3 separate regions of the Homo sapiens genome follow, and all the other regions are linked to region 1. The links come from fine-mapping of genetic effects on gene expression. A gene starts in region 1. Each other region holds a variant in brackets. All regions are shown on one strand. Distances are from middle to middle.

Region 1 (8,176 bases):
TGCCCATCTCCCCAGCTCCTATTCCCTCGCCCCAGCCCTCCCTCACCAACGTTTCCAGTGTTCCAGGGGTTTTCTTAGGAAGGAGCTGAGGTGTTAAATCCTTAGAGGTCGGCATGGCTTAGGTGATTATAGCTGAGCTTTACCTGCCCTTCTCAGGGGTTCCTCAAGTCTCTCAAAGCAACACATTTGCTCATGGTGGGGAATGGGTGGGAACGGCTGCCACAGGCATTTCCTCCAAGTTTCCCGTGTTGGTCCTCCTTCCTTTCACCATCTTTAGGTTCCTCCTACCGTACCTCCTACCCTGATCCCCAGTTTGGGCCAGGCCCTTCACGCATAGACACAGCTCCTGAGTCTACCTTATCACGCCCTGCTCCCCAGAACTCAGAGGGACAGCCTAGAGCCTTTGTTACAAGCACAGCCTGGCTCGCCTCTCCAAACCCCCATACTCACTGTGCAATGTTGGGCATATTCATTCATTTATTTGATGCATATTTATTGAATACTTATTGTGTAACAGTTACTGTTTTAGGGCTTGGGGATATATTATTAGTGAAGTAACTAAATAAAATCCATTGCCGTGGTGGAGCTTACATTCTGGTGGGGGAGAGAGACACAAAACACAACAAAGAAATGAAATATGTAGTGGAGATAAGTGCTAAGGAGAAAAGTTCAGCAGAAAAGGTGGTAGGGAACATGTGGTAGGGGATTAATTTTGCAGACACACTTGTTCAAGATCATCCAGAAAGCAGTGAAGTCAGAATTTGCACCTAAATCAAATCTATTTTGTCTTTAAAAGTGACTCCTGACAGCACAGACATGTCCCTAAATGAATGCAGTAAATGCGATGTGAGTTTTATTTCAGTAATAATTCATCTCAGGCTGGGCGTGGTGGCTCACGCCTGTAATCCAAACACTTTGGGTGGTCAAGGCAGGTGGATCACCTGAGGTCAGGGGTTCGAGACCCGCCTGGCCAACATGGCGAAACCCTGTCTCTACTAAAAATACAAAAATTAGCCAGGCATGATGGCGCATGCCTGTAATCCCAGCAACTCAGGAGGCTGAGGCAGGGGAATCGCTTGAACCCAGGAAGCAGAGGTTGCAGTGAGCTGAGATCGTGCCACTGCACTCTAGCCTGGGCGACAGAGTAAAACTCTGTCTCAAAAATAAATATAATAGGCTGGGCGCAGTGGTTCATACCTGTAATCCCAGCACTTTGGGAGGCTCAGGCGGGTGGATTACTTGAGGTCCAGAGTTCGAGACCAGCCTGGCCAACATGGTGAAACCCCGTCTCTACTAAAAATATGAAAAAATTAGCCGGGCGTGGTGGCAGGCGCCGGTAATCCCAGCTACTCGGGAGGGTGAGGGAGGAAAATCACTTGAACCCGGGAGGCAGAGGTTGTGGTGAGCTGAGATCGCGTCACTGCACTCCGGCCTGGGCGACAGAGAGAGACTCCGTCTCAAAAATAAAATAAAATAAAAAAATATATATAATTCATTTCAGTAGTAAAAGACATAAACAAAAAGCTATAAGTATACACTACGTTACAGCTTTTGTTGAGGAATGCAATAAACATACATATCACTTCCCTGTATAATCTCAATGGCCTTTGGGAGAGAATTTAGAAAAGCATCCCAGTCGCTGAATGGTTGAGTTTAGGGGAAAAACTGACCCAGCACAGCCCCCTCATCTCCTGGATGAGGTTACTGCGGTTCCGCAAGGTGAATCGAGGTCAGTCGCCAAGGCAGAACCGGATTCGCCAGATTCCCTAGTCTCAGTGGAGCTTTAACCCTCCCAGGCACAGGACCGCTGGAGAGGTCGCCACGGGCCGGTTTCCCAGCCGGCCGCGAGGGGGCGACAGAGTGCAATGGACCCAGGTGAGTCGGGGACCAGGCGCCGCCAGGTCGTGACGCCACAAGGTGAGGGAGGTCTTTGATGGAGGGAGATACAGGAGAAAAGGCGCCGAGCTTAGGAAGTCTGTTCGTACTGTCCTCCCCGATTCCAGTCTGGCTCCCACTGCTATCTTCCTCCCACTGCTGGACCCTTCTAAAACAAAAGCCTGACTTTGCTACCATCCGTAAAACTGTAACGACACCTCCAACGTTGCTTACAGGGAAAAAAAAAAAAAAGGGCAGCAAAACATGGGACCTGGGTGATCTTGCCCCAGCCTAATTCCAAGATATCTCCTGCAAATAGATATCTATTTGCAGATATCTGGGAGCCGTATTGAAATACTTCCAACTCCCTGGACTCATCCTACTTTTTTTTTTTTTTTTTTTTTTGAGACTGAGTCTCGCTATGCCGCCCAGGCTGGAGTGCAGTGACGCAATCTCGGCTCACTGCAACCTTCACCTCCCGGGTTCAAGCGATTCTTCTGCCTCAGCCTTCTAAGTAGCTGGCACTAAAGGCGCGCCCAGATAATTTTTTTTTTTTTTTTTTTTTAGTAGAGACGGGGTTTCACCGTGTTAGGATGGTTTCGATCTCCTGACCTCGTGATCCGCCCTCCTCGGCCTTCATCCTACTTTTTCTCCCTGAATATCTTTTCGCACCAGCTCTACGTGGAGAAATCCGACTGTCTTTGAGCGAAGTACAGTATCACTTTCTCTTGAAACCTCCCCTGACACGACCCCTCCCCTGACACGACCCCTCCCCTGACAACACCCCCACCCACCCCACCCCAGTTTGGGGGAGGAGCCCCCTCCTTTGTTCCCACTACCCCGTGGGCTTCCCCTATCACACTGTAATAAATATCTGGCCTTGTCTATCTCCTTCTGTGCCCATCACAGAGCAAAGCAAATACAAAGAGTTCATTAAACGTTGGCTGGATGAATGGAGGAGACGGCACAGGGTTCAAGCTCTGCTACTTGTGCGGCCTCAGGCCGACTAATTATCTGGTGGGTTTGTTGTAAGGAGTCAGAACTAAATGGATTAATTACAAATAGTGCTTAGGACAATGCCCAGAATACTGTAAGCACTCAAGAAACTGATTTATTTTCGTCATTTTCACAGCGGCCAAGGTACATGAGGATGTAGCTTATCGCCCTTTTAAGGGACTCTCCCACGTTCGACTCTAAGCGGAAGTACCCGCTCAGGGCTCCGGAAGTGGCCTCAGAGCCCCTCAGCAACATGCCCGCAGAGAATTCTTCCGGAGGCGGTCACAGACATCTCCGTGACGCAGAACGAGTTAGAGCGTCCCTTGGGGTTTCCATGGTGCTGCCCTTAGCCTGCAGTATCTCCACTTCCTCTCCCGCCTGAGCGCCGGGAACGGAAAAGCAGGCGGCCGGTCCCAGCTGCGACGTAGACGCCGCGTGGGGGTGGGGTTGGGCGAGTAGGTGACGCTCTAGGCGAGCTCGTTGGCCTCTCTATGGTGCCGAGCGCGCCCGTTCGGACGTTGCCCCTTTAATCGGCAGAGGGCGGTGCCCAGGAGGTCCCGCGAGAGCTGCGGGGGGCGGGGGGGCGGTGCCGAGGCTGGGGGCCGGTGGCGGATGGAGCCCGCGATGGAGCCGGAGACTCTGGAGGCGCGAATCAGTGAGTGTCCGGGAGGGGCGCGGGCCGGACCGGAACCGGAACCGGGGGCACGAGGCGGGCCCCTTCCCGGCGGGGGCGGGGTACGGGTCGCCCCCTCCTCACGCCCCGCCCCCGGCCCGGGAGGGGCGGTGTCCTCAGTCGGCCCCTCAGACCCTGGAGCGATGGAGGACCCCGGCCCCGGCGCGGTCCAGCGGTGGGAGCGGGCGCCGCCCACCTGTCGGATCCCTGGGCCATGACCCCTGGGACGGCGAGTGAGCTGCGCCGGGAACCCCCGGGACGGAGAGAGCAGCCTCCAACCCCCAAGGCTCACATTGCTTCACGGAGTAGCGGCCCGGGGAAGGAGCACGCGAGCGGTTCCCCGGGGTTGCATCTCACACCCGGGAGGGAGGGACCCTACTATTTTCAGGCCCCGAATCCTCCACTCTCTGGCCCTGCATGGCGTTCCTGGAGCCCGCAAGTAGTCACATTTGCTCATTACCCCGTCCTGGAAGGGAGGACCCACTGCCCCATTTGATTCCTCCCGCCGCTCCTAGTCTCTAGCCACATAGTGAGAAACCCCCGCACCCTACAGGCTTGGGAGAGTCTTAGACTCCAGAAGTATTAATAATTCCAAGCTCCCTGTCACTCCCTTCAGCCTAACCCCTCAGTCTCCAAGATGCCTTTCCCAGCTCTTGCTGAACTTCCTTCAAAGGCTTCTACACCCCTTTTTTTCTTGTTTCTCCTCAGACGTAGCTTCCTATTGCTTAGGCTTCCTAGCCCGCAAACCCTCCACCTGAGCTCCTTAACCCACAGCCCTGATGATCCCCTGCTCTCACAGCCCCGCTCCTGGACTCTGCCTCTGAAAGCCGTGGCTGGCTTCTCCCTGGTCTAGTGAGGGTTCTCTCCCAAGGCTTTAACTGCTGTTGGGACCCCGTCGTTGCCAGGGCCTCAGGGAACCCTCTTGGACCCGGGCACACCGGCAACTGTCTAGCGTGGTTTGGGGTCATGGCCGGCCCCTTTTAAGCCAGGCTTGAGCAGAGTTGAACCATGAGGTTGGCCCCAGAACCAAACCTCTAGGGATGTTTCAGAGTCATCCTAGCCACCAGAGGGGCAGGGGGTGGAAAAGGGGCACTCAGCAGCCCTTGACCGTTGTGAACGCCGGAAGTGTCCGCCTGGGTCTCAGCAGCAACTGGGCTGGGGGGATGGGTGGGCCCCTGGCTAACTGATCTCAGACACAGGTCTTGAGCTGTGGGTCATACAAAACATTCTCAGGTTTAGAAACAGTGGGGGTTTTCTGAGAGTCCAGAGAGTCTAAAACCAGGCAGAAGTTAGAGATACCTGGGTTTGGCTGGGCCCTGACACACTGGGGCTGGGATTTTCTCCTTTCCTTCCCCCTTTGTGTCCTAGCAGAATTGTAAGATCTTTCCTCTTCCCTTGTGGAGGCTGGAGGTAAAGGATAGCTTCTTCTTTTTTTTTTTGAGACGGGTTTTCACTCTTGTCACCCAGGCTGGAGTGCAGTGGCACAATCTCAGCTCTCTGCAACCTCCACCTCCCGGGTTCAAGTGATTCTCCTGTCTCAGCCTCCCGAGTAGCTGGAATTACAGGTGCGCCACCACGCCCAGCTATTTTTGTATTTTTAGTACAGGTGGGCTTTCACCATGTTGGCCAGGCTGATCTCGAACTCCTGACCTCAGGTGATCCGCCTATATAGGCCTCTCAAAGTGTTGGGATTACAGGCGTTAGCCACTCATCCGCCCACGTCGGCCTCTCAAAGTGTTGGGATTACAGGCGTGAGCCACCGCGCCCGGCCTAGTGAGGTAAATGATGTTATTGTCAGCACTATAGAGTGGCAGGGTGGAGTCTTACCCTGTTGTGAAACACCTCCCTCCCTCTCTAGGTGTTCTCCCCAACTGCCTGCTAGGGAGGGTACTCCCCTCAGGTAGAATTAAGAGGGCTGAGGGTCAGGGGCCATGGGCCAAGGAGGTCAGTCAGATCTCCTTGGATCTGGAGGCCCTGGCTTTCAGCCAGAGGCAGGGGGAGAAAGATGATGTCTCATGATGCCAGCGCTTCCTCTTCACTGGCGTCTGACCCAGGAGCAGTCCAGAATCAGCTTCTCTGACCTCACTCCAACTCACGTGTCTTTGACACTTTAAGGGACTTCCTGTTTTAGGGTCTTCTGGCTGGGTGTCATTGAATGGGCAGTGATTCTCTAACTTTAGACTGATGTTCCCCAGCCTTTGTTTGGGGACTCGGAGGCAGAGTAGACAGTTACCCTTACCCCTGGGTTGGGGAGGGTCATATTCCTGGTATCCCCAGGAGGTCAACAGGGGCTTCATTTTTCTGAGGGACTAGAGGGTCTTGTGGAGCTCCTGGGACAGAGATCTAGATCCAGAGAGAACATTCGTCCTTCCGATCTCAGCTCAGCTCTGAGAGCCCTCCCAGAGAGCAGCTCCCGAGGGCTCCAGAGCCCTCCGAAAGCCCTCCCAGAGAGCAGCCCCCACCTCCCAGGCTGTCTGCACTTCTCCTTGCTATGCTTTGCTCTGTAACATTTTGCAACAGTCTGCAGTACACGGGGTTTGTTAATCTGAGTATTCATTGTTTCTCTTGCTGGGCAGTGAACTTGAGGAGGGCAGGGATTTTGTCTGTTCACTGCTGGAGCCCCAGCACCCAGAATACTTAAATCTGAGTTGGATGAATGGCGGCCAGCCACTGGGATTCCAGGGCTTTGGGCCCCCTGCCATAACATATGGCCCAGGGCAGGCGCCACATGCTGGGTCAGTCCCCAGCCTCCTGTCCACAGATCCTTCTCTGTTCTACCTCCTGGGCTGTGTCCTTCCACACCCTCAGCTCGGTGCTCAGGCGTGGGCAGAACTGGCTGGGAAGGGGTGGTCCTTAGAGGTGGGCTGTGGAGAAATGAAGATCGAGCTCTGGCTGCCGCCATGGCCTTCCCATGCAAAAAGTATTTTGTCATCCAAAATCAATATTTTGGTCAGGCACAGTGGCTCATGCCTGTAATCCCAGCACTTTGGGTGGCCGAGGTGGGTGGATCATTTGAGGTCAGGAGTTTGAGACCAGCCTGACCAACATGGTGAAATTCCATCTCTACCAAAAATACAAAAAAATTAGCTGGGCATGGTGGTGGACGCCTGTGATCCCAGCTACTCTCAGGAGGCTGAAGCAGGAGAATCGTTTGAACCCAGGAAGCTGAGATTGCAGTGAGCCGAGATCTCGCCACTGCACTCCAGCCTGGGCAACAAAGCAAGACTCTTTCTCAAAAAAAAATAAAAATAAAAAAATACAGGCCGGACGCAGTGGCTCACACCTGTAATTCCAGTACTTTGGGAGGCCGAGGCAGGTGGATCACGAGGTTAGGAGATCAAGACCATCCTGGCTAACACAGTGAAACCCCGTCTCTACTAAAAATACAAAAAAAAAAAAAATTAGCCGGGCGTGGTGGCGGGCACCTGTAGTCCCAGCTACTCGGGAGGCTGAGGCAGGAGAATGGCGTGAACCTGGGAGGCAGAGTTTGCAGTCAGCCGAGATCACACCACTGCACTCCAGCCTGGGCGATAGAGCGAGACTCCGTCTCAAAAAAAAAAAAAAATACAGCCGGGCACGGTGGCTCACACCTGTAATCCCAGCACTTTGGGAGGCCAAGGTGGGCGGATCACAAGGTCAGGAGATTGAGACCATCCTGGCTAACATGGTGAAACCCTGTCTCTACTAAAAATACAAAAAAAAATTAGCCGGGCGTGGTGGCGGGTGCCTGTAGTCCCAGCTACTCGGGAGGCTGAGGAAGGAGAATGGCATGAACCTGGGAGGCGGAGCTTGCAGTGAGCCGAGATCGTGCCACTGCACTCCAGCCTGGGCAACAGCGTGAGACTCGTCTCAAAAAAAAAAAAAAATCCATATTTCATTCCAGCTTTACAAGATGGGGAAATGGAGGTTCAGGGAAGCATGTAAGCTAGATTGTTGTTTAACCAGTATTGGGGGTTAAAGGGGTAGCTGTCTGGTCGTGTTTACACCACTTCATGTAGACCTGTTGGCCCTCTTTCCTTGCCACTATCCATTTCTGGATTCAGTCTTCCCCAGAACCTCACCCTTTGCCTGCCCTCAGCTGACTGCTCATTCATTTGCCAAGGGGAGACAGGTGTGGACATGAGTGGCTGGGATGCAGTGCCGTAGCAGGCTGGGGGACACAAAAGAGAACTGACCCAGCACTGCTACCCTGGGCAGGAGTAGAGGATTAGAGAAGGGGACACCGGAGCCACTCCCAAGGGAATGAAGGCTTTCTGAACCTGGTGTGATGGTAAGACTCACACTCCTTACTGAGGCCCCTCATTCTCTGCCTCGTGTGGTTACCCGCATCTTTCCTGCCCATACAGCCATGCGTGGGTCAGAGGTGTACCAGCTCCAGCCTGGGTGACTCCTCCTGGTCCCTGCTTGTGTGTTGCCTCTTCCAGGCAGCCTCCTCAGCCCCAAACTGAACTGAGTCCCCTCCTCTGTGTTTCTTTTTTGTTTGTTTGAGACGGAGTCACCCAGAGTCCCAGCTCTGTCACCCAGGCTGGAGGGCAGTGGCGAGACCTCGGCTCACTCCAAGCTCCGCCTCCCGGGTTCACGCCATTCTCCTGCCTCAGCCTCCCAAGTAGCTGGGACTACAGGCACCCACCA
Region 2 (8,176 bases), 24 kb before region 1:
TGCCTGCGAAATAGTCTACCTTTCAACGACTGAATTTATTTAACCAATTTCCTTCTGCTGAACACTCACATTAATTCTACATTTTTGCTATTAAAAATACTGCTGCATTAAATCTATTTGGACATAAACTTTGGCTGCATCGTGACAACTTATGTAGGGCAGATTCCCAGAAGGAGAACTTTTCTAGAGCTCAGGATTTGGCGAGCCAGAGCGTTTTCCATCAGAGTTGGCGGTGGCCACTCCGGGCAGGATGTGGGGAACTGGCCTTGCCGAGGGCCCTCGGTGCCAGGAGTCTGCAGGTGGCTCACTGCCCAGTGCCCACATAGGACACCACCTTCAGTCCCCTGCCAGCCCGGAGTGAGGAGTGACTTCCTCCTTTCACCCACAAGGAAATTAATCCTCTCTCGGCCTTTCTCCCAAAGGCATGGTAAAACCCCAGTGAGATAAGGAATTTTAAAAGGCTTTCTCCCTGGAAACTAATCAACAGAAACTATACCTTTTAAAGGTGGCATTTTTCTGATTATAATAATAATATTATCTCACTATAGGAGGTTCCAGAAAGTACACACAGTAAAAGGAACTTAAAGTTCACTTGTTTTAAAATAATGTTCAAAAGCAGGGGAAAATGACCATGCATATCATTTACGTACTTTGCTGCGTATATATTTTATACCAATGAAAGATTTAAAAAAAGAAAAAAGAATGGCTGGGCATGGTGGCTCACCCCTGTAATCCCAGCACTTTGGGAAGCTGAGGTGGGTGGATCGCTTGAGTCCAGGAGTTCGAGACCAGCCTGGGCCACATAGTGAGACCCTATCTCTACTAAAAATTTTTTTTAATTAGCCAGGCATGGTGGCACATGCCAGTAGTCCCAGCTACTCAGGAGTCTGAGGTAAGAGAATCACTTGAGCCCTGGAGATCCAGGCTGCAGTGAGCCATGATTGTGCCACTGCACTCCAGCCTGGGTGACAGTGACGGACCCTGTCTCAAAGGAAAAAGAAAAAGAACAGAAATTCCAATACTCACATCTGTAACCTTGTCCTCTTAACAATGGCTACCTTCTGAAGGGCATTCTGCACTTTGCAAACCACTTTCTTCAGCCCTCATCGTTATAAGCTCATAGTACATTCTCAAGGGAACCTCTGTTCTCACCCCATTTTTCAGGTGGGGAATTAGGGATCCCAGGACTCACGCAACTAGAAAGTAGCAGAGCTTGCTGTCTAGCAACCAATCCCTTGCTCAGGCGCCTGCCAAAGTGTGTGGCACTGCCCTCACTTAGCAAAAAGAGCATTTGACCTCCAGTGTGACCTTGAGCCCTCTGTGCGGTGGCCGCCTCTGAGATGGCCCCAATGATCCCCAGCTCCTGGTAATCACACACTTGCCCAATCAGCTCCCTTGAGCATGACTGGACACAGGACTTGCTTCTAACTAAAAGAATACTAGAATATGGCAAAAGTCATGGGATGTCACTTCCAAGGTTAGGTTACAAAAAAACTGTTGTCCTGCTGTCTCTCTCGCCCTCTGCTCTGCTCTTGCCCTGGGGAAGAAGCAATGAAACCACCTTGCGAGTAGCTCTATGGAGAGGCCCATGTGCCAAGGAACTGACGTCTCCAGCCAACCACCAATGAAGACCAGGACCTGCCAACAGCTACATGAGTGAACTTGACATTGGAGCTTACCCCACGCCAGCCTGGAGACAACTTGTGCAGCCGACACCCTGACTGCAGCCTTGTGAGACCCGGAGCCAGAGGCTCTCAGCTAAACCCCACCTGGATTCCTGCCCCAAAGAAACCATGAGAAACGTGTTTCTTATTTTAAGTCCCTACATTTTGGGTTAATTTATTACGCAGTGATAGATAACTAATATACCTTGCCAAGCAATTGTTATTGGAAGGCTGGTAGACGGAATAATATTCCTGAAGGCCTCCCTCCTGGCTAAAGAATCTTTGGTCCATAGATGTCCACAGACATTCTATAATACTATACTGAATTTTTTTTTTTCTTGAGATGGAGTCTTGCTCTTGTCGCCCAGGCTGGAGTGTAATGGCACAATCTCTGTTCACTGCAATCTCCACCTCCTAGGTTCAAGTGATTCTCCTGCCTCAGCCTCCCAAGTACCTGGGATTACAGGCGCCCACGACCATGCCCAGCTAATTTTTGTATTTTTAGTAGAGGCGGCATTTCACCATGTTGGCCAGGCTGGTCTCAAACTCCTGACCTCAGGTGATCCGCCTGCCTCAGCCTCCCAAAGTGCTGGGATTACGGGTGTGAGACACCACGCCTGGCTACAAAAGATATTTTTAAATTAGCTTGGCACGGTGGAGCACAAATGTAGTCCCAGCTACGGGAGAGGCTGAGGTGGGAGGTTCGCTTGAACCCAGGAGGTCAAGGCTGCAGTCGGCCATGGTCACACCACTGCACTACAGTCTGGGTGACAGAGTAAGACCTTGGTCTCAAAAAATATGTATATATTTTCTCTTCAACCTAAAAGTTTATTTTTTTCTGATTGTATAAGAAATTAAAACATTTTAGGCTGGGCGCAGTGGCTCACGCCTGTAATCCTAGCACTTTGGGAGGCCGAGGCAGGTGGATCACCTGAGGTCAGGAGTTCAAGACCAGCCCAACCAATATGGTGAAACCCCATCTCTACTAAAAATACAAAAATTAGCCTGGTGTGGTGGCGTGCGCCTGGAGTCCAAGGTACACGGGAGGCTAAGACAGAAGAATCGCTTGAACCCAGGAGACGGAGGTTGCAGTGAGCTGAGATAGTGCCACTGCACTCCAGCCTGTGCAACAGAGCAAGAGTCCATCTCAAAAAAAAAAGAAAGAAAGAAAAGAAATTAAAACATTTTGGTGTCATGGGCCTGAGGCATCATGCCTGCTGAGCCTGGTGGTGCACACAGCTTCCCACGGGGCTCCTGCTATTGGGAGACTTTGGTCCTGACATCCCTGAGACCCCTACTGTGTCCTCTGCTGTCCTCCTCCCAAAGAACAAACAGATCAACACCCCGGCAATATCCATTTTAACTCTTGCTTCCCTCTCTGCCGAGCCCTCCCCAGCAGCACACAGAGGGACTGGGAAGACCCTCAGTTACTGGTGGGGTGTGGGAAACACAGAGGTTTCAGCAACAGATAGATAATGTCCAGTCCCGGCTCTGTCACCTACAAGCTAAGTGGCCATGACAGGTTGCTTCAAGCCTCGTTTCTGCATCTGTGAAAGGGAGCTAACAGCACCTTCGTCCCAGGGTGGTTGTGAGAATTTTTTTAAATTTTATTTTATTTTATTTTATTTTATTTTATTTTATTTTATTTTTGAGACAGAGTCTTGCTCTGTCACCCAGGCTGGAGTGCAGTGGCGCGATCTTGGCTCACTGCAAGCTCCTCCTCCCGGGTTCACGCCATTCTCCTGCCTCAGCCTCCCAAGTGGCTGGGACTACAGGTGCCCGCCACCATGCCCGACTAATTTTTTTGTATTTTTAGTAGAGACGGGGTTTCACCGTGTTAGCCAGGATGGTCTCGATCTCCTGACCTCGTGATCTACCCGCCTCGGCCTCCCACAGGGCTGGGATTACAGGTGTGAGCCACTGTGCCCAGCCTTAATTTTAATTTAAAAAGTTAACCTATGGGCTGGGTGCGATGGCTGACACCTGTAATCCCAGCTACTCAGGAGGCTGAGGCAGGAGAATTGCTTGAAACTGGGAGGCGGAGGTTGCAGTGAGCCGAGATGATGCCATTGCATTCCAGCCTGGGCGACAGAGCAAGACTCCGACCCAAAATAAATAAATAAATTATATATATGACCATCAGGTCTCCAGGATGTTTAGGCTGCCTGAGGGGGGGTCCCCTGCTCCTGCAGCTCTGATGAGCTGACCGTCCCTCCTTCAGGGGACTTCCACAGAGCTCTCGCCTCATCCAGCCCAGGGATCTTCCTGTTTAACTTGATGGCCGGGTCCGGGGCCCCTCTCTACACAGCAGCCACTGGCCATGCCTGGCCACCCATCCCCAGCTAGTGTCCCTCCAGGACCACCCAGGTCCCCTGGAGCTCTGGGGTCATCCCATCTCACCTGAAATCAGGGTGGGGCCTTGAAGGAGGAAGGAATTTGGAGACTTAGCAGGGAGTGGGCCAAAGCCACCGAGCTTTCTCCCTTTCTCCACTCCTGCCCCCACAGTCTTTCCACCAACCACTGGTTCTTTGTAAGATGTAAATGACAACATTCCACTCTCCTGCTTTAAACCCTCCAGGTTTCTCCTTGCACTTACAGCGAAATCCAAACTCCCCTCTCAGCTAACCAGCCCCACACGATCGGGTCTGGTCCACCTCTTAGCCCCGTCTCACGCCACCTGCCCCCTGGCCACACTGACATCTCTATCCCTTGAATTCACCAGGCTCATTCTAGTCTCATGCCTTATGTCCTTGCTGTTCCTTCCACCTGGAATTCTTCCT[C/T]AGCTCTTGGCTGGATTGAGCTCCTTATCATGTCAGTTTTAACTCAAAAGAGGGATGGATGGACAATCGGATGGATGGATGGGTGCTGTGATACTATTATTACATAAAATAGGTTTTGCCCATGGTTTCTAACTCATAACTCTCACAGCATTTGTTAGTCTTTTGTTATAATGTTGGGGTGCTTTAGGCCTCAGGAACAGGCCTCAGAAAACAGAATCAATCTCTGACCTTTGGCTGTCCTTCCTTCACCTGCTCCTTTCTCTCCTCAAGGTAGGAATCTCCCCCTGCCTTTCTTTCTTAGAACAGAAATTCTGGCCAGGCACAGTGGCTCACACCTGTAGTCCCAGCACTTTGGGAGGTTGAGGCGGGCGAATCACTTGAGGTCAGGAGTTCGAGACCAGCCTGGCCAACATGGCGAAACCCTGTCTTTACTAAAAATACAAAATAATTAGCAGGGCGCGGTGATGCGCACCTGTAATCCCAGCTACTCAGGAGGCTGAGGCAGGAGAATCGCTTGAACCTGGGAGGCTGCAGCGAGCCAAGATCACGCCATTGCACTCCAGCCTGGGTGACAAGAATGAGACTCCATCTCAAAAAAAAAAAAAAAACACAGAAATTCTTCCGTAAAGAAATTCCCTGGCAGGGCGCGTTGGCTCACGCCTGTAATCCCAGCACTTTGGGAGGCCGAGGCAGGCGGATCACCTGAGGTTGGGAGTTCGAAACCAGCCTGACCAACAAGGAGAAACCCCATCTCTACTAAAAATATAAAATTAGCCAGGCGTAGTGGTGCATGCTTGTAATCCCAGCTGCTCGGGAAGCTGAGGCAGGAGAATTTCTGGAACCCAGGAGGCAGAGATTGCAGTGAGCCGAGATCGCACCATTGCACTCCAGCCTGGGCAACAAGAGCAAAACTCCATCTCAAAAAAAAAAAAAAAAAAAAAAAAGAAATTCCCTGACCTACCTTGTCATAAGACCCTCATTTCAGAAGGGGTCCTGCTCCATCCCTTGGAGTAAGAAATGCTGCACAGAGAGGCCAAGAAGAATCTGAACAGACGGGCCTTGCGGGGGTTCCACACTTCGTCTAGTAATATTAGATCAGATCCTTTTTGCCCATTCACAGTTCTACACAGAGGTCAATCATGCCGGCATAATAAAGTCCCCATAAAAGGCCCCAGGGGATTGGGTTTGGGCAGCTTCTGAGATAGCTGAACACATGGCTGTCCTGAAGGATGGTGCTCCCAGGTGGGAGGGGAAGCTCTGCATCTCTTCCCCATAACCCGCCCTAAACATCTCTTCATCTGTATGTTTTATAACATCCTTTATAATAGACCAGTACACACAAATGTTTCCCTGACTTCTGTGAGCCACTCTAACAAATTAACTGAACCCAAAGAGGGGTCGTGGGATCCCCAACTTGAAGTCCAGAGGCTCAGACTTGCAACTGGTGTGGAGGGAGAGGGGAGTCAGGGAGAGGGAGCTCAGGAGTTCGAGACCAGCCTGGCCAACATGGTGAAATCCTGTCTCTACTAAAAATACAAAAATTAGCCAAGCGTGGTGGCACACACCTGTAAGCCCAGCTACTCTGGAAGCTGAGAAAGGAGAATTGCTTGAATCCAGGAGGTTGCAGTGAGCCGAGATTGTGCCACTGTACTCCAGCCTGGGTGACAGAGTGAAACTCTGCCTCAAAAAAGGAGAAAAAAGAGGCCTGGCGTGGTGGCCCACACCTGTAATCCCAGCACTTTGGGAGGTTGAGGTGGGTGGCTTACCTGAGGTCAGGAGCTCGAGACCAGCCTGGCCAACACAGAGAAACCCCGTCTCTACTAAAAATACAAAAATTAGCTGGGCGTGGTGGTGCGCACCTGTAATCCCAGCTACTCGGGAGGCTGAGGCAGGAGAATCACTTGAACCTGGGAGGCAGAGGCTGCAGTGAGCCGAGATCGGGCCATTGCACTCCAGCCTGGGCAATAGAGTGAGACTGCATCTCAAAAAAAAGAAAAGAAAAAGAAAAAAGAAAAAAGATGCATGGTTAAGTGGGTGGATGGGTGAGGAGGTGGAGGGAGGGGTGGGTGCATGGATGGTGGATCAGCAGGAGGAATTGCTCATCATAGAGCCCCAAAGGGTGGGTATCTTCAGGGCCCCAATCTGGTGCAGCACGGCCCCTCCCTCCATCCCTCCTGCCCCCTCCCTGGCTTATCATCCCAGCCTTTTGAACCAGGAAGCCTCCGTCTCAGGGCCACGCCAACTTATGCACGTGTGGTGCTGGGTGGATTTACAGAAAAGATCATCAGGTTCTGTGTCCACCTTCTTATAAGTGGCAAGAAGATTTTCCATCTCTGTGTCTTTAGAAATTGAAGATATAAACCAAGCTGCTTCTGTGACTTGGGTGGTCCTTGAGTGCTCTTCCTCAGAGACAGGTGACCTGAGTCCTGAGTGCAGTTCCTTCTCCCTGGCCCAGGCCACACAGTCTTTCCATGGATAGTGGAGCCTTTTTTTTTTTTTGAGACAGAGTCTCGCTCTGTTGCCCAGGCTGGACTGCAGTGGTGCAATCTCGGCTCACTGTGACCTCCACCTTCCAGGTTCAAGTGATTCTCCTGCTTCAGCCTCCCAAGTAGCTGGGATTATAGGCACCCGCCATCACGCCCGACTAATTTTTGTATTTGTAGTAGAGACGAGGTTTCACCATGTTGGCCAGGCTTTTCCTGAACTCCTGACCGCAGGTGATCTGCCTGCCTTGGCTTCCCAAGGTGCTGGGATTACAGGCGTGAGCCACAGCGCCTGACCTGAGCCTTCTGCATCTTAATCACCCAGTCACAGCTGTCCATGCGGGCGGGTACCTGGGGATGGTGAGGAGAGGCTAAAACAACAGAAGCAATGAAGCAACGCTGCTCACCCCAGCATTCCCACCCCACCCCCAGCTTCTGGCAGGATTATATCTGCCAAGGACAGGACTATATCCGCCTCAATCTTTGTGTTTGCCAAGCAGGGAGAGGAGCATTTATCCATCTCTAATGTGGTAAACAACCAAAGGAGGTCCCCCGCCAAGTGCAGCCCTAGTCGCAGGAGCACACCCACTCCCAAGGCTTCTGATCCACCCTGAGCACCTATGGCCACTGGAAACCCCCACTCTTACTGAAGTCTGTCCCTGGGGGCAATCCCCTTCCTCTCACAGTTGGCCCCAGCTCTGCCCTGGGCCACACAGATTCTGCTGCCATCACTGCTTTTCTGATGATTGCAGTCTCAGGACCATCTGGGCTGCCTCCCCGCAGCACCCCGTACATATACAAGCCTCCTTCCTCAAGGGGAAACACCTATGAGCCCCCAGGGCCTCATCTCCCAGAATCAGAATCCAAAGGATTCCAGAAGCAGCTTGGTTTAAATGGACATTTTCCTGAAGGCCAAAATCAACAGGTACAGGCCTTCAGGGAAATGTCCATTTCAGAAGCTGACCCTTTATTTTTAGGATGGGAGCAGGACCTAGGTGCCGTAATACCCTTGCAGGTCAAGTTCACAACCCCCGAGACCCACCAACCAGAGCGGTCATGAATTCTCCCCTAATTCCCAGAGCCCCTGGGGAGACCATGGGCTGCAGGAGAGCAGATGAGACTGTGGCTGGGTGTCCAGAGCTGCTGCCTGCTCCGGCACCTTCATGGAATGGCATTGGCCTCAAGTCCTCGCTGCCTCTTACTGGCTGTGTGACCTTGGGCAGGCCAGGTAGCCTCAGCTTCCTAGAGA
Region 3 (8,176 bases), 160 kb after region 1:
TTACGGATGCCAAGACTGAAGCTCAGAGGGGGCGAGGGGTTTGTTCAGGTTCACTCCAAGGCGCAGCCAGGGTGAAGACCGCCTCTGAGGTCCAAAGTCATGTTCTGTTGTCCTAAGCCAGGAGACACATAGAGGGCAGGAACAGAAGCCAGGGGACAGACACCCCTGTCGCCACATGAAGCTCTTGGCCCTCGCTCCTCCATCAAATCGTCCCCAGGTGTGGCTGCTGGAGAGGCGGGGAGGTGGCCTTTGCGTGGGGGAGACAGTCCCTCATCTGGTCCTCTGTGCCTTAGTTTCTTCCCTGGCTCTTCTTCCCCTTCCCTTTTTAATGACCTTAAACATTTTTTTAATTATATAAAAGAAATGTTTACATTTTCAAAAATAATTTAAACAAATTGAAAGGCTGGAAATCAACACCCTCACACTCCTTCTGCTGCCAGCTGCCACCCCAGGGTCCTGTCGGTGGCTGCTGCCGCCTGCCTATCAGTTTCTGGTGGCAGCTGTAACCTGTAACCACAGCTACCTAAATAATGCACATGTATTACCTCACGCTTCTGTAGGCGAGAAGTCTAACGCGAGTCTTGCCGCGCTGCAGCCAAGGCGTGGGCAGGACTGTGTTCCTCTGCAGGCACCCGTTGTATCCCTTGCCTGCTCCAGCTTCTGGTGGCCGTCCGCGTCCCTTGGCTCTCGGCCCCTTCCTTCATCTTCAAAGCCTGCAGAGGGGAAGTCGAGTCCTTCTCCTGCCACGTCACTCTGACCATCCCTTCCTGGTCACACCTCCCTTGAACTCTTCGCTTCTGCCCCCTTCGTCCACTTTTAAGGACCCTTGTGATTACACTGGGCTTGAGGGATAATCTGGGATAATCTCCCGATTTTAAGGTCAGCTGATTAGCAACCTTGATTCCCTCTGCAGCCTGAATTCCTCTTTGCCATGTAACATGATGTAGTCACAGATCCTGGGAGTAAGATGTGGACAACTTTGAGGGGCTATCATTCTGCCCCCTACAATATCCTCCCTACCTTTTCTGTGTTTTCTGTGTTTTCCATTCACTGGGACGGACAGGTCTGCACGTTTGTTCCCGTGAGTGAGATCATACCACGTGTATGTCAGAAGCCAACTTTCACCACCTCATTTTGGGATCTTTTTCCACAGCATCCACACAAAAACTCTGTCTAGCAGCTGCCTGTGTCCCATTGTCAAGCTCGATCCCATCATTTATTCAAGAGTTCCCCTGATAGGGATTTAGATTGTTTCCAGTTTTCATCTGTTACCAACCTGGCTGTAGGGAATACCCTTGTTCCAAAAGTCTCTGTACACATACGACTTTCTGTGGGATCATTTCTGGGAGTGAACCTACTAGGTCAACCAGTGGGGTCGCAAAATGTGATGATGCCACCGGACCACCCCCAACACACACCGTTGTGGCGGACACTCCCAGCAGTGGGTATTATTAGTCTGAGATACTTGCCCATCTTGTCTACTAAGCATTATTTTGTATTACATCATCAGTTTCAGCTCATTTACTGAGCACCTGCCACATGTCAGGCCCTGGCCTAGACCCTGGGGACTGCGCCAGTCAGATGTTCTCAGTCTTCAGGGAATTTATGGTTTGGCAGAGGTAGAACCTTTTGAGGCAGGGGAGAGGCTGCCCAGAGACAGAGCTAGGAGAGACATTTAAACTGGGCTGCAGGTCAGTAAATTACCCAGGGAGGTAAAGTTGCCAAAAAAACATTCCAGGCCGGGCACAGTGGCTCATGCCTGTAATCCCAGCATTTTGGGAGGCCAAGGCCGGCAGATCACAAGGTCAGAAGTTCAAGACCATCCTGGCTAACACAGTGAAACCCCATCTCTACTAAAAATACAAAAATTAGCTGGGCGTGGTGGTGGGCACCTGTAGTCCCAGCTACTCACGAGGCTGAGGCAGAAGAATCACTTGAACCCAGAGGTGGAGGTTGCAGTGAGCTGAGATTGCTCCACTGCACTCCAGCCTGGGTGACAGAACAAAACTCTGTCTCAAAAACAAAAACAAAAACAAAAAAACCACAAAATTCCAGGCAGTGGGAATAGCTAAAGCTCAGAGGTGTGAACGTGCTGCAACCGTAACTGTGAGATTGCTTGGCAGAGAAAGGCCAGGGATGAGAACGTAAAGGTCAGCCATGGGAACGGGGACTTGACTCTGTAGGACGAGGAATCCCTGGAGGGCTTGAGGCAGGAGCGACAAGGTGAGGTTTGTGAATGAGGAGCCGTGGGGTGGGGGTGGGAGCAGGAGCAGGTGCAGACTGGAGGTGCTGGGACCCAGGAGGAGGTGGTGTACCTGCCCCTGAGCCTTCTCCTCTGGAGGCTGGGGAAGGGCCGCTGTCCAGAGGAACGGGGCAGCCTGTGACACCCTGGCGTCCGGCCCACAGGAGGCATGTGAGCGCAGCCTGGCAGAGATGGAGTCCTCGCACCAGCAGGTGATGGAGGAGCTGCAGCGGCACCACGAGCGGGAGCTGCAGCGCCTGCAGCAGGAGAAGGAGTGGCTCCTGGCTGAGGAGACGGCAGCCACGGCCTCAGGTATGGACCCTGGGGGGGGCACAGTGGGCTGGGCTCTGAGCCTCTGTGCTGAGGTTCCTCCTAGCCAAACTGGGGAGGATTTTATCAAATAAGATGTAGGGGTCTCAGTGCCACATTTGGGGTAAAGGGTCAGCAGGTGTTAGAAGCTCCAAGAACTGGCCTGTAGCCCTACTTAAAAAGGGAAACTGAGGCAGTAAAAGATACCCTCCCCACCCCCAACACCACCACTACCATAGGTGGTGACTCTTCCTGCTCAGGGGCCTGCAGCCACCATAGAGTCTGCCTAAAGGCACATGCTACCCACGTGCGTGGGGGAGAGGCTGATCAGCTGCATCCCCTGTCCTCATAGGAGTGCCTCCTCCCTGGGCACATGGGCCAGACCCTGGGGAGAGCAGGGGAAGGTGTGAGCATTGTCCATGCCAGCTGTGTGCCAGGCACTGGGCCCCACATGTTTCCCACAGGAGCACCCTTCATCCTGGACAATTCCCTCCCCTCCTGCCACCGCACACCTGCTGTGTGCCTGGCACATTCCTAGGCATCACTAGGGGTTTGCAGAACAATAGAAATGCTGGCCAATGTCACATGATCTGAAGCTCACAACCTGCCAGTGCTGTGCCAAGTGCTCATGCACTCGAACCCAGCCTTGGGGCCAGTGTGCTCTGCATTT[C/T]AGGAAGATCGCCTTTGCAGCCGCGTGTGTTAGAGACCCCTTCCCCCTCAGCAGAGTCTGGACTTCGCCCTGTAATCTGGCACTAAGGTTTCTGCTGTGAAATGGATAAAAATCACACTTAAGTGGAATAATAAAGACCATAAATAGCCTCATGTCCGTTCAGGGTGGGGATTGCCACCAAAAGATTTACCAGAGGCCCGGTGCAGTGGCTCATGCCTGTAATCCCAGCACTTTGGGAGGCTGAGGCGGGCAGATCACCTGAGGTCAGGAGTTCGAGACTAGCCTGGCCAACATGGTGAAACCCCATCTCTACTAAAAATACAAAAATTAGCTGGGCGTGATGGTGGGCAGCTGCAATCCCAGCTACTCAGGAGGCTAAGGCAGGAGAATCTCTTGAACCCAGGAGACAGAGGCTGCAGTGAGCTGAGATTGCACCACTGCACTCCAGCCTGGATGACAGAGTAAGACTCCATCAAAAAAAAAAAAGGCCAGGCACTGTGGCTCATGCCTGTAATCCCAGCACTTTGGGAGGCCGAGGCAGGTGCATCACGAGGTCAGGAGTTCAAGACCAGCCTGGCCAAGATGGTGAAACCCTGTCTCTACTATGAATACAAAAATTAGCCATGCGCGGTGGCAGGCGCGTGTAATCCCAGCTACTCAGGAGGCTGAGGCAGGAGAATCGCTTGAAAGTGGGCGGCAAAGGTTGTAGTGAACCAAGATTGTGCCACTGCACTCCAGCCTGGGTGACAGAGTGAGACTCCGTCTCCTGGGTGACAGAGTGAGACTCCGTCTCCTGGGTGACAGAGTGAGACTCTGTCTCAAAAAAAAAAAGAAAGAAAAAAAGGAGAGAAACTTTCAATGTTCAGAAGTTTCGGATTTTAGAATTGTGGGTAAAACCATGGGTGGCCCTGAGTGGGAAAAAAAAAGCCTCGGTCTCAGTCCTTAGGAGCTCACAATCTGAGAATAAAGCCAGCAGGAGCTAATGTTGGGGCATTTACTCTGAGCCATGCTTTGTTCTAAATTCTTCACACACCTTCCAATAACCCCATGGAGGAAAGGTACTGTTGTTATCGATCCCTGTTTTCCAGATAAGGGATCTGAGGCACAAGGGGTTAAGTCACCTGTGCAAAGTCACATCGGTTTATGCTGACTGTGGAGCCTGAGCTCTTGACCACGAGGCTGGTCAAAGCAGATAGGCCTTGTTTGAGAGCCCTCAGAGTCTGCAGGGGGGGTGTACTAGGTGGGGTCCTACCTGGAAATCACTAGAACAGGAGGTACCAATGGTCAGACCCTGAGCTGTCTCCCCAGTAGGGTCCATCCAACAGGATTATCTTCCCTTAATAGATGGGCTGAGAGAGGTTGAGAGCTTACCCCAAGCCACTCAGTTTATGACACAACCTGGGCTACTCTAGACTCCTGGTTCGGTGCTCTTTGCATAGCACTCCTTGGTCCAAGTCCATAGTACTTGCATAGTACTATGTGGAGTCCACATAGTACTCCACCAGTACATGTGGCGTCTCAGAGCTGGTGGCACTTGGTGCTGCTGACCCCCCTCCAGTCTCTCTTGTGCCTCTCTGCCCTGCTTCCAGCCATTGAAGCCATGAAGAAGGCCTACCAGGAAGAGCTGAGCCGAGAGCTGAGCAAAACACGGAGTCTCCAGCAGGGCCCGGATGGCCTCCGGAAGCAGCACCAGTAAGATGATGCCGGGGCCCAACTGCCCACCCTGATGGTTATGGGTTGAGGAACTTTGCTGAGGCCCCTTGGCAGCGGACACATCAGTTTGCCCCTAGCTGAGATTCCTGCTCCAGTCTCATGGATGCAAGAAACAGAAGCAGAAGGTCCTCAGGCAGACCCCATGCCAGTCCTCACAGACAGTCCTTCAGGCAGCTTCTTGTCTTGGCTGGTCCCAGCCTCCACCCACCTCTTCACCCCTTTAGTCTCCCCTGGAGCTGGGCTGCAGTGTCACTGTTGACCACTAGGCCTCTCCCTGCCCCAGAGCACAGTTTTGGAATGTTGAGGTTTCAGGGGCTTTAACTTTAAAGATGGGCCCCTCCAGCCGGGCACATTGGCTCATGCCTGTAATCCCAGCACTTTGGGAGGCTGGGATCAGGAGTTCGAGACTAGCCTGGCCAACATGGTGAAACCCCATCTCTACTAAAAATACAAGCTAGCTGAATGTGGTGGCGGGAGCCTGCAATTCTAGCTACTTGGGAGGCTGAGGCAGGAGAATCGCTTGAACCCAGGAGGCAGAGGTTGCAGTGAGCCAAGATTGTGCCATTGTATTCCAGCCTGGGCAACAAGAGTGAGAGCAAGACTCCATCTAAAAAAAAAAAAAAAGATGGGCTCCTCCAAGCCACCCTCACTTAGGGTAAACACCTGTAGCCCAGAGAAGCTGTCACTGGTTCACAGCCCCACAGCAGGCTAAAGGCAAACCTAGAGAGGGAACCCCAGAGTCCTGGGATGCTTTAAGTCTACCTGACTGGACTCCAGGCTTGGCAGGAGCAAGACAACCTATGCTCTCCTCTGCTCCTCCTCTGGGGCAGGTCAGATGTGGAGGCACTGAAGCGAGAGCTGCAGGTGCTATCGGAGCAGTACTCGCAGAAGTGCCTGGAGATTGGGGCACTCATGCGGCAGGCTGAGGAGCGCGAGCACACGCTGCGCCGCTGCCAGCAGGAGGGCCAGGAGCTGCTGCGCCACAACCAGGTGGGCCTGGCCCCAGGTTGGGGGGACACGGGTGGGTCCCGGCACCCCTCCCCTGACCACCGTGCCTCTCCCAGGAGCTGCATGGCCGCCTGTCAGAGGAGATAGACCAGCTGCGCGGCTTCATTGCCTCGCAGGGCATGGGCAATGGCTGCGGGCGCAGCAACGAGCGGAGTTCCTGCGAGCTAGAGGTGAGTGTCCTCACTAGCACCAGGCAGCCCAGTGGTTCTCGGGGCCCGGGGCTATGGGGCACCCCCGCCATAGGCTGGGTATCACCTGTGGCAGGAAAGCCAAGTCTCCCAGTGGCTGGGCCAGCCTGACTAGGCTAGAACACCTACTGTGCATCCAGTAGCCAGCATTCTGCCCTCCCACCTGCATTGTGTCACCTACCTGCCGTGTACCATAGCAAATCACTCCACTTTTCTGAGTCCCAGTAGCTCATCTGTAAAATGGCACCAGCACCTTCCTTACTGGGAAATATTGGGGTAAGAAAATATGTGTGTATGTGTGTGATGCCAGTATCACTGTAGTATTTTCTTTCTTTTTCTTTCTTTCTTTTTTTGAGACAGAGTCTCTCTCTGTCACCCAGGCTGGAGTGTAGTGACACGATCTCAGTTCACTGCAACCTCTGCCTCCCTGGTTCAAGCGATTCTCCTGCCTCAGCCTCCCAAGTAGCTAGGATTACAGGCCTGCACCACCACACCCAGCTAATTTTTTATATTTTTGGTAGAGACAAGTTTCACTATGTTGGCCAGGCTGGTCTCGAACTCCGGACCTCAAGTGATCTGCCTACCTTGGCCTCACAAAGTGCTGGGATTACAGCATGAGCCACCACACCCGGCCTTAGTATTTATTTCTTTACTTTTTTTTTTTTTTTGAGACAGAGTTTTGCTGTTGTTGCCCAGGCTACAGTGCAGTGGCGCGATCTCGGCTCACCACAACCTCCGCCTCCCAGGTTAAAACGATTCTCCTGGCCGGGCGCGGTGGCTCACGCCTGTAATCCCAGCACTTTGGGAGGCCGAGGCGGGCAGATCACGAGGTAGGAGATCAAGACCATCCTGGCTAACACAGTGAAACCCCGTCTCTACTAAAAATACAAAAAAATTACCCGGGCGTGGTGGCGGGCGCGGTGGCGGGTGCCTGTAGTCCCAGCCACTCCGGAGGCTGAGGCAGGAGAATGGCATGAACCTGGGAGGCGGAGCGTGCAGTGAGCCGAGATCGTGCCACTGCACTCCAGCCTGGGTGACAGAGCGAGACTCCGTCTCAAAAAAAAAAAAAATATTAAAAAAAAAAAGCGATTATCCTGCCTCAGCCTCCCAAGTAGCTAGGATTACAGGCATGTGCCACCTCGCCTGGATAATTTTGTATTTTTAGTAGAGACAGGGTTTTTCCATGTTGGTCAGGCTCTTCTCGAACTCCCAACCTCAGGTGATCCGCCCACTTCGGCCTCTCAAAGTGTTGGGATTACAGGCGTGAGCCACCGTGCCCAGCCGATATTTTATTTCTCTTTTTTTTTTTGAGACGGAGTCACTCTGTCACCCAGGCTGGAGTGCAGTGGCACCATCTCGGCTCACTGCAAGCTCCGCCTCTCGGGTTCATGCCATTCTCCTGCCTCAGCCTCCCGAGTAGCTGGGACTACAGGCACCCGCCACCACACCTGGCTAATTTTTTGTATTTTTAGTAGAGACGGGGTTTCACCATGTTAGCCGGGATGGTCCCAATCTCCTGACCTCGTGATCCGCCCGCCTCTGCCTCCCAAAGTGCTGGGATTACAGGCGTGAGCCACCGCTCCTGGCCCCAATATTTTATTTCTTCAACAAACACTTAGGTGAGGCTCACTCTGTACCTAGAAATTCTGGAAGCCCTTTTTGTCTGTTAACTCATCTAATCTTCCTGACAGCTCCATACATTAGCTACTATGACTGTCCCCATTTACAGATGAGGAAACTGAGGCACAGGAAGGTCAAGTACCTTACCAAAGCTTTTATAGCTGGACTGGGATTTGAACCAGGCAGTCTGGCTCCAGTCTGAGCTTTTAAGCCTCCCCAGTCCTGGCTGAACTTGTTTCCTCCTTGGTCAAGTCAGCAGCACCTAGCCCTCGGGGTTGGGGAGGGGTTAATGAGGTGCCTTGTGGAGTGGTTCAGCCTGCTCAGGTTTATGTAGGGCTTCTTTTCATCCATCTCACTCCCGAGGTGAGAGCCTGGTGCTGCATGAGGGCTGCAGCAGACTTGACCGTGAGATATCCACTCACACGG

What was found. PIP is the estimated chance that this variant, and not a neighbour inherited with it, causes the effect. A credible set is the group of variants that fine-mapping cannot tell apart.
Region 2: its variant is the best candidate, but not a certain one, in a credible set for the expression of GGA1 in whole blood (INTERVAL, PIP 0.57).
Region 3: its variant is the best candidate, but not a certain one, in a credible set for the expression of GGA1 in whole blood (TOPMed, PIP 0.77).

What each region holds. Positions count from the first base shown.
Region 1 is chr22:37,605,378-37,613,553 of GRCh38, forward strand. GGA1 (golgi associated, gamma adaptin ear containing, ARF binding protein 1) reads left to right here and starts at 3,457. Exons shown (of 17, transcript NM_013365.5): 1 at 3,457-3,526. The coding sequence starts at 3,484. RefSeq lists a cis regulatory region at 1,633-2,092, enhancers at 2,837-2,916, 3,067-3,236, 3,841-4,462, 4,177-4,286 and a silencer at 3,397-3,846.
Region 2 is chr22:37,581,412-37,589,587 of GRCh38, forward strand. No RefSeq gene overlaps it. Among named protein-coding and RNA genes, the nearest start is that of LGALS2, 5.4 kb to the left of the region's middle. The variant C/T (reference allele first, on the strand shown) is at 4,445.
Region 3 is chr22:37,763,264-37,771,439 of GRCh38, forward strand. It overlaps TRIOBP (TRIO and F-actin binding protein), which reads left to right. Exons shown (of 24, transcript NM_001039141.3): 18 at 2,407-2,554; 19 at 4,811-4,913; 20 at 5,765-5,924; 21 at 5,999-6,112. Among named protein-coding and RNA genes, the nearest start is that of H1-0, 38 kb to the right of the region's middle. The variant C/T (reference allele first, on the strand shown) is at 3,222.